Linked DNA regions of Homo sapiens. The protein of the gene in region 1 purifies or fractionates together with the protein of each later gene. This does not show direct contact. Each region holds a gene or a part of one and is shown on either strand. Other genes may lie near its edges.

Evidence for each region.
Region 2: the proteins of SLC25A20 (region 1) and OGDH fractionate together in Homo sapiens (co-fractionation; one large-scale study listed by BioGRID). This does not show direct contact.

What each region holds. Positions count from the first base shown.
Region 1 is NC_000003.12:48,884,926-48,889,182, forward strand, and holds part of SLC25A20 (mitochondrial carnitine/acylcarnitine carrier protein), read right to left. Parts: intron 1-4,257. UniProt on the Homo sapiens protein: Mediates the electroneutral exchange of acylcarnitines (O-acyl-(R)-carnitine or L-acylcarnitine) of different acyl chain lengths (ranging from O-acetyl-(R)-carnitine to long-chain O-acyl-(R)-carnitines) with free carnitine ((R)-carnitine or L-carnitine) across the mitochondrial inner membrane, via a ping-pong mechanism.
Region 2 is NC_000007.14:44,676,127-44,679,645, forward strand, and holds part of OGDH (2-oxoglutarate dehydrogenase complex component E1 isoform 1 precursor), read left to right. Parts: coding exon 1-23; coding exon of another isoform or gene 24-101; exon of another isoform or gene 102-456; intron 457-3,519. UniProt on the Homo sapiens protein: 2-oxoglutarate dehydrogenase (E1o) component of the 2-oxoglutarate dehydrogenase complex (OGDHC). Participates in the first step, rate limiting for the overall conversion of 2-oxoglutarate to succinyl-CoA and CO(2) catalyzed by the whole OGDHC.

The DNA of each region.
Region 1 (4,257 bases):
CACAACGTGATCTACCTTCTTTGGGGTAAGATTACAAGTGATTAAGAAAATGTTTTATATTTTCCAGGTATTAAGATGGGACTTTTGTTAGAACTGCACAGCAATTTTCACTAGCACAGTTTAGTAATGAAAGGGAAGATGAGCCTGGGCAGCATAGCAAGACCCTGTCTCTACAAAAACAAATAAAAAATAAAAGTTAGCCAGACGTGGTGGTGTGTGCCTGTAGTCCTAGGCAGTCAGGAGGCTGAGTTGGGAGAATAACTTGAGCCAAGGAGTTCAAGGCTGCAGTGAGCTATGACCTTGCCACTGTACTCTACCCTGGGTGACAGAGTGAGACCCCATCTCTAGAAAAAAAAAAAGAAAGTGAATTATGTGGTAACCAATAAATAATTAGACAGACAGACAAATACATACATAAATACCCTGCCAAACAAGGTGGTAAACGAGGAAGATTCAGGACCTGGGAGACCAGGGGGCCAGTCCAAGAGAGATGAAATGCGTTTCTAGGATGGCACAGGGTGCAGTGGACCTGGGAAGCAGTCAGTCCACAGGGCAGTAGAGGACTCCAAAAGCGATGTTTCCAAGAAAAACAGAACAAGGCTGGGTGCAGTAGCTCATGCCTGTAATTCCAGCACTTTGGGAGGCCAAGGCAGGCGGATCACAAGGTAGGAGATCAAGACCATCATGGCCAACATGGTGAAACCCCGCCTCTACTAAAAATACAAAAATTAGCTGGGTGTGGTGGTGCATGCCTGTAATCCCAGCTACTCAGGAGCTGAGGCATGAGAATCGCTTGAACCTGGGAGGCAAAGGTTGCAGTGAGCCGAGATTGTGCCACTGTACTCCAGCCTGGCAACACAGCAAAATTCCATCTCAAAAAAACAAAACTAAACTAAAACAAAAACAGAACAAAACAATACACACTAGAACAACAGAAAATAACTCCTTAGGCAGTGTGTAGCAAACCAAACAGAAAGGTACACTACAGAGCATTTAGGGTACAGAATGACAGAGACAGTGATTCAAAGACAAACAAAACAAAAGATTTAACACAATTATTAACCCAATCCCAAGGGAAACAAGAAGTTACACAAGGAATGGAATGCACATCATACTTCATACTTACTTAAGAGAAAAAATATATATAAAGTTGTAATCATGAAAATGGTGAATTGGATTAAACCACAAAGGGTGATAAAATCATATGGATGGGCAGGGCAGAAGGAGGGGATAGGGAGACTAAGAGCTAAAATATAAAATAATGTACCACAAATAGGTAGCTAAAAAATATAAAAATGTATAAAATATAATAGTAATGGCCGGGTGCGGTGGCTCATGCCTGTAATCCCAGCACTTTCAGAGGCCAAGGCGGGCGGATCACCTGAGGTCGGGAGTTCGAGACCAGCCTGACCAACATGGAGAAACCCTGTTTCTACTAAAAATACAAAATTAGCCAGGCGTGGTGGCACATGCCTGTAATCCCAGCTACTCAGGAGGCTGAGGCAGGAGGATCGCTTGAACCGGGAGGCGGAGGTTGCAGTGAGCCGAGATCGCGCCATTGCACTCCAGCCTGGGCAACAAGAGTAAAACTCCGTCTCAAACAAAAAATAATAATAATAAAAATAAATAAATAAAATATAATAGTAAATGTATATTATGTAGATAGGTGGAAACAGCATAAACAACTGAAAAAATTGAAAGTAGTTGCCTCTGGAGAATGAAGGAAAGAGATAAATATCACTTTGTTACTTTGTCATAAGCTTCTCAGTAACAAATGAAGTGCCTGTATCAGGGCCTATAATCTCAGGTACGCAGGAGGCTGAGACGGGAGGATCACTTGAGCCCAGGAGTTCAAGACCAGCCTGGGTAAAATAGCAAGACCCCATCTCAAAACCATTTTTTTAAAACAAATACAAAAAAATTTTAAAGTTTCTCCTTATAGAGAGTAGCAGGAGAATCAGGGTGAGGCTGCACACTGGCAGGGCTCCACAGACCCAGGCTGAAGAACCTGCCTCACTGCAGACCCTGGGTATCCAAACTTTCTTTTCAGAATCAAAGTGGCACAACTGTACCTGTCAGCATTCCTCCTAATTCCTGCAAAAGCCTAAACTGCTGCAGGCTGCAGGTGGACTCCAAGAACAAAGTACAGAGGCAGTAAATGGGAAAAGGACAGAGATCTGAGGAGGATCTGCAAAAGTAGCATATGACAAAGTCCATTCAAAGCCATTCCCACAGCTCCCTACATGAGCTAAAAGGATGACCAGGTCCTGAGAGGTCAAGCCCATTCCTCCTGAACAACTTGTCTAGTCTTCCTTCCACTAGAATGGCCAACCCAGTTCCATGTTTCACAACCTACAGACCCCTGCCTGGCAGCTCCAGAAAGCAGAAAGCTCAAATCTGGCACAGGAAAAACCAGGACATGCACAAATATGGACTAAGGAAGCCTATTCAACTCTTCAAAGACTTGGGTTTATACAAGACATTCTCACCACAACTCCAGGACCCAGCACATTGCCCACCCCTAGGCAGGTGTTCAATAACGTCTAATGACCAAGAGGCAGGTAAGCCTACCTTCCTTCTGTAAGGGCAGAGGACTCTAAGTGGACCTGAAGCCTAGAACCTCCATCAGACACTGCTCAGACTCTACCCTGGGCACTAGAGATGTAAGGAGGAGGAGCTTAAAGAAGAAAGAACAAGGCCAGGTGCCATGGCTCACGCCTGTAATTCCAGCACTTTGGGAGGCCAAGGAGGGCAGATCACGAAGTCAGGAGTTCAAGACCGGCCTGGCCAATATGGTGAAACCCCATCTCTACTAAAAATACAAAAATTAGTCGGGCATGGTGGCAGACGCTTGTAGTCCCAGCTACTCGGGAGGCTGAGGCAGGGAGAATTGCTTGAACCCGGGAGGCGGAGGTTGCAGTGGGCTGAGATCGTGCCACTGCACTCCAACCTGGGTGACAGAATGAGACTCCATAAAAAAAAAGAAGAAGAAGAAAGGGCAGGCCAGGCGTGGTGGCTCATATCTGTAATTCCAGCGCTTTGGGAGGCTGAGGCAGGCAGATCACCTGAGCTCAGGAGATTAAAACCAGCTGGCCAACATGGCAAAACCCATCTGTACTAAAATTATAAAAATGAGCTGGGCATTGTGGCAGGTGCCTGTAATCCCAGCTACTTGGGAGGCTGAGGCAGGAGAATCACTTGAACCCAGGAGGTGGAGGTTGCAGTGAGCCAAGATCGGACCACTGCACTCCAGTCTGAGTGGCAGAACAAGACTCCATCTCGAAAAAAAAAAAAAAAAAAAAAAGAAGGGTAGCACCACCTCACTCAAGGACGGTTGGGCAGGCACTGCCTCAAGATCTTCCTAAGCCAGATGCAGTGGCTCATGCCTGTAATCCCAGCACTTTGGGAGGCTGAGGCGGGCAGATCACAAAGTCAGGAGTTTGAGACCAGCTTGGCCAACATGGTAAAACCCCATTTCTACTAAAAACACAAAAATTAGCCGGGCATGGTGGCAGGTGCCTGCAATCCCAGCTACTCGGGAGGCTGAGGCAGGAGAATCACTTGAACCCGGGAGGCAGAGTTTGCAGTGACCGAGATTGCGCCACTGCACTCCAGCCTGGGCAACTGAACAAGACTCTTGTCTCAAAATAAATAAATAAATAAATAAATAAATAAATAAATAAATAAATAGTTTAAAAAGATCTTCCTTCTGCACCCAAGTCCTACAGGAATCCTGGGAACAACTTCGCCAAGGCTGAGTCCATCACTTACTATCACTCCCTTTTTATCTGGATGACTACTACTTAGTTTCTGTATATTTAATCAAGGCTATAAATTTAGAGACTATAATAGAGTGTTTATATGAAAGTTATATTTTAGGGCCAGGCGTGGTGGCTCATGCCTGTAATCCCAGCACTTCGGGAGGCTGAGGCGGGTGGATCATGAGGTCAGGAGATCGAGACCATCCTGGTTAACATGGTGAAACCCTGTCTCTACTAAATATACAAAATTAGCCAGGCATGGTGGTGCATGCCTATAATCCCAGCTACTCAGGAAGCTGAGGCAGGAGAATCACTTGAACCAAGGAGATGGTTCAAGAGATTGCGGTGAGCCAAGATTGTGCCATTGCACTCCAGACTGGACAACAAGAGCAAAACTCCGTCTCAAAAAAAAAAAAGTTATATTTTAGGAAGCAAAGGAAAAGATCTCAATGAGGTCTTTAAGACCTGTGTTAATGAAGTTATTTATTATTATTAT
Region 2 (3,519 bases), on another chromosome or scaffold:
GTGGCGACACTGAAGGGAAAAAGGTAAGGCCCAGAGAGAGGCGTGCAAGGCAGATCGTCAAGGCCCCATGTTCCAGCATGGAGTTCCGCTCACCAACATAACCCAGAGCCCTGGGTGCATCTAGACTTTAAAAAAATATTTAAAGTCGGCCGGGCGCAGTGTCTCACGCCTGTAATCCCAGCACTTTGGGAGGCCGAGGTGGGCAGATCACCTGAGTTCGGGAGTTGGAGACCAGCCTGACCAACATGGAGAAACTCCATCTCTACTAAAAATACAAAATTAGCTGGGCGTGGTGGCGCGCGCCTGTAATCCCAGCTACTCAGGAGGCTGAGGCAGGAGAATCGCTTGAACCCGGGAGGTGGAGGTTGCAGTGAGCCGAGATTACGCCATTGCACTCCAGCCTGGGCCAACAAGAGCGAAACTCTGTCTCAAAGAAAAAAATAAATAAATAAAAAATATATGTATATGTATGTATGTGTGTGTGTGTGTATATATATATATATATATATATATATTTAAAATCAACTTTTAAAGAATAGCAATAGTAAAACAGTCCTGCTTACAGTGTTCCTTTTCCTGAAGTTGTAATTGTCAGAACTATGTGGGAAGTTTGCTTTTGTCTTCACCAAATCTGTTAAGGAGCCAGGTTGCAGTTATTCTGAATGGACAGAGATGTTTTCACTGAAAAGGAGGGGAGTCTGAGAGTCTCTGTAAGGAAAAAGTGTAGGTGAGCCTGAAGGAGAAATTGTAGAACTGAGACTTGTCAGGAGAGTCATGCTTGCTGTGATTAGAGGCGGGAGTTCACGGGCTGGTAGGAGACGGAGGAGGGCACAGACTGCAGGCAGGTGGGGTCCTGCTTCACCATTTCTGGTCATGTGACTGAGTGTTGGGGGTTGACTCGCCTGCCTGCTTGTGTAGAAATAGTCTCAACAGATTGTAACAATTTGCCCTTATTTAACTTCAAGATAGAATCTTGTCTGACAAATTTTATATTTCCTATTAATGATGACCTAAAAACCAAATAATCAGAAAAAAAATCAAATATTTGTAATGTCTTATGTATGGGTTCTGGGAAACATATAAAGAAGGCATCACCACTTTTCTCTCCAGAGCCTCCTGTTCTTTTTAGAAAAAAGGTCGTGTGTAAAGAAGCAAATAGCACATACACGGCATGATAGGAAACTGGAGTTAGCCGTGAAGAGCTTTGGAAGAGGTGTGCAGGGGTGTGGGCTAGAGTTGGACCAAGGATAGAAGGCACACCCCTTAGTAGCAGAGCAGGTAGTTGTCATTTTATTTGAGAAGTGGCAGGATTTAGGGAGGTGGGAAGGGAAGAATGTTTTCTGGAGATGAAAGGTAAGAGCAAAGATGTAGGGGGAATTGGGGACACAGAGCAGGGAGGGGCCGGCCTCCTAGTTGTGCCCTGGAAAGAAGTCAGGTCTATGTTAGAAGTGGAACCAATTGGCCAGGTGCGGTGGCTCACGCCTGTAATCCCAGCACTTTGGGAGGCTGAGGCGGGTGGATCACCTGAGGTCAGGAGTTCGAGACCATCCTGGCTAACACAGTGAAACCCCATCTCTACTAAAAATACAAAAAAAAAATTAGCCGGGCATGGTGGCACACGCCTGTAGTCTCAGCTACTCAGGAGGCTGAGGCAGGAGAATTGCTTGAACCTGGGAGGCGGAGGTTGCAGTGAGCTGAGATCACGCCACTGCACTCCAGCCTGGGTGACAGAGGGAGACTCCTTCTCAAAGGAAAAAAAAAAAAAAAAGAAGTGGAACCAATTATTACTTTACCAGGCTCTATAATTTTAAATACTGTAAATCTACTACTGTCATGCTTACAGTGTTAGAGGAAGGGAAACTGTCATCATAGGTAATGGAGCCTGGGCTGGGGAAGTGATTCCCGCATCGATCAATGCTCACTGTAAAGAACGAGTATGACCCACAGGGACGCAGAGGTCATTCCATGGCTTCAAGCTCATGGGCCAGGACAGTGCCACAGAAACTTCAACTAGATGCAAAGAGGCCTTAGCTCTGGGGAACCTGCAGCCCCCGCAGGCAGTAACAACACTGGGTGTCTGGGATGGCCTGGGCTAAGGTGAGATCGGCATGGGGAGATCAGCATTGTGATGACCAGTGCCTCTGGTATTTGCACCCTCCTTGGCTAGGACACTCGCCCAGGCATTTGGGCTGAGTAGTGGAATGAGATTACCGAAAACTTTGGGTGATTCCCACATTCATAGATTGTGGACAGAAATCCACTCTAGCAGTACTCACCTCATAATGCTGGAAATTTCCCAAAAAGGAATGAAATCATTAGAGTAAAAGCAATAGAGTATATTTTAAACTGCTACAGATGGTCACACTGATTGGTCCCTTCATGAGATGCCAGGACAGGAGAGGCTGGTTAGTCCCTGATTTGCTCATAAGTCTGCATGCAGCTGAGTCCGAACTGTCAGTCCCTTTGTTTTCCAGTCTACACAAACCTTGTTGTCACAAGTTTGCCCTTGCCCCAATGTGGATAGCTGCCAGGCCCTCTTTCTGAGCCTCCTCGTCACCTTGCCTCAAGCCCTCACATGTCCCCAGCAGGGTCAGTGTGGGGTCATTGCAGGCTCAGCCATCTGCCTGTTCTTCTTACTCCTCTTGACACCCATAGGACATGATTTGATTTCTATTAAATCCAGAAACTCAGGGAGCTGGAGTGTGTGTTATGTAACTCTCAGCATTTTTCGTGAAGAATTACATACTTTCTGTAAGTGCAGCTGAGGTCATCCCATAACCTCATGCATGATTGTGAAACAGACCTGATTTGGCTCAGTGCTAATATGGCCTTTGGGATCTTTGTTCATGAAAGCATTTCCTCAGTGCAGCAATGCAACCTGCTGCAAAGGGAGAACCCGCTCCTGCCAGAGGTATGGCTCAGGCTGCCAGACACAAGGAGATTCCCCATGTGTCCTGGCTGTGATTTCAGCAGACAGTTACCACAGTGCAGTATGGCATGGTAGTCGCAGTACAACATCACCAGGATGATCAAGAGCAAATACCATGACAAGAGGAAGACTGACTACAGGTGCCCTGTCAGCAGAAGACAGACTGGACAGAAAAGTATCTGCGGGAAGAAACAACACACTATCGGGATCAGGAAAGCATGAAATGTCAGTGACTCAAAACCAATGGCTTTTACACTCAGGCAGCCTGGGCATCGTAGCAAAGCTGCACACCTCCAAGGGGGCCCCGTAAGCAAACCAGATCCTTACGTCCACATGCTGCTATCCTAGTGAGCACCTGCCACATCCACCAAAAGGCAGGACACCTGCAGTTCTGTTTTTAAAAATTCTAGGTTTTGTCCCTGACACACAAATCATGGGTCTTAACCAAGGATGACTCAGCACAGCGCTGAGGACCAGGGTAATCACAAGAACTCAGGGAGGTGCAGGTCAGTAGGCCCGTAGGCTGAGGACACAGCAGGAGAGGGTGTGTTGTATATCACCTTGGCTAGCCACAGCGTCCAGGTTTTTTT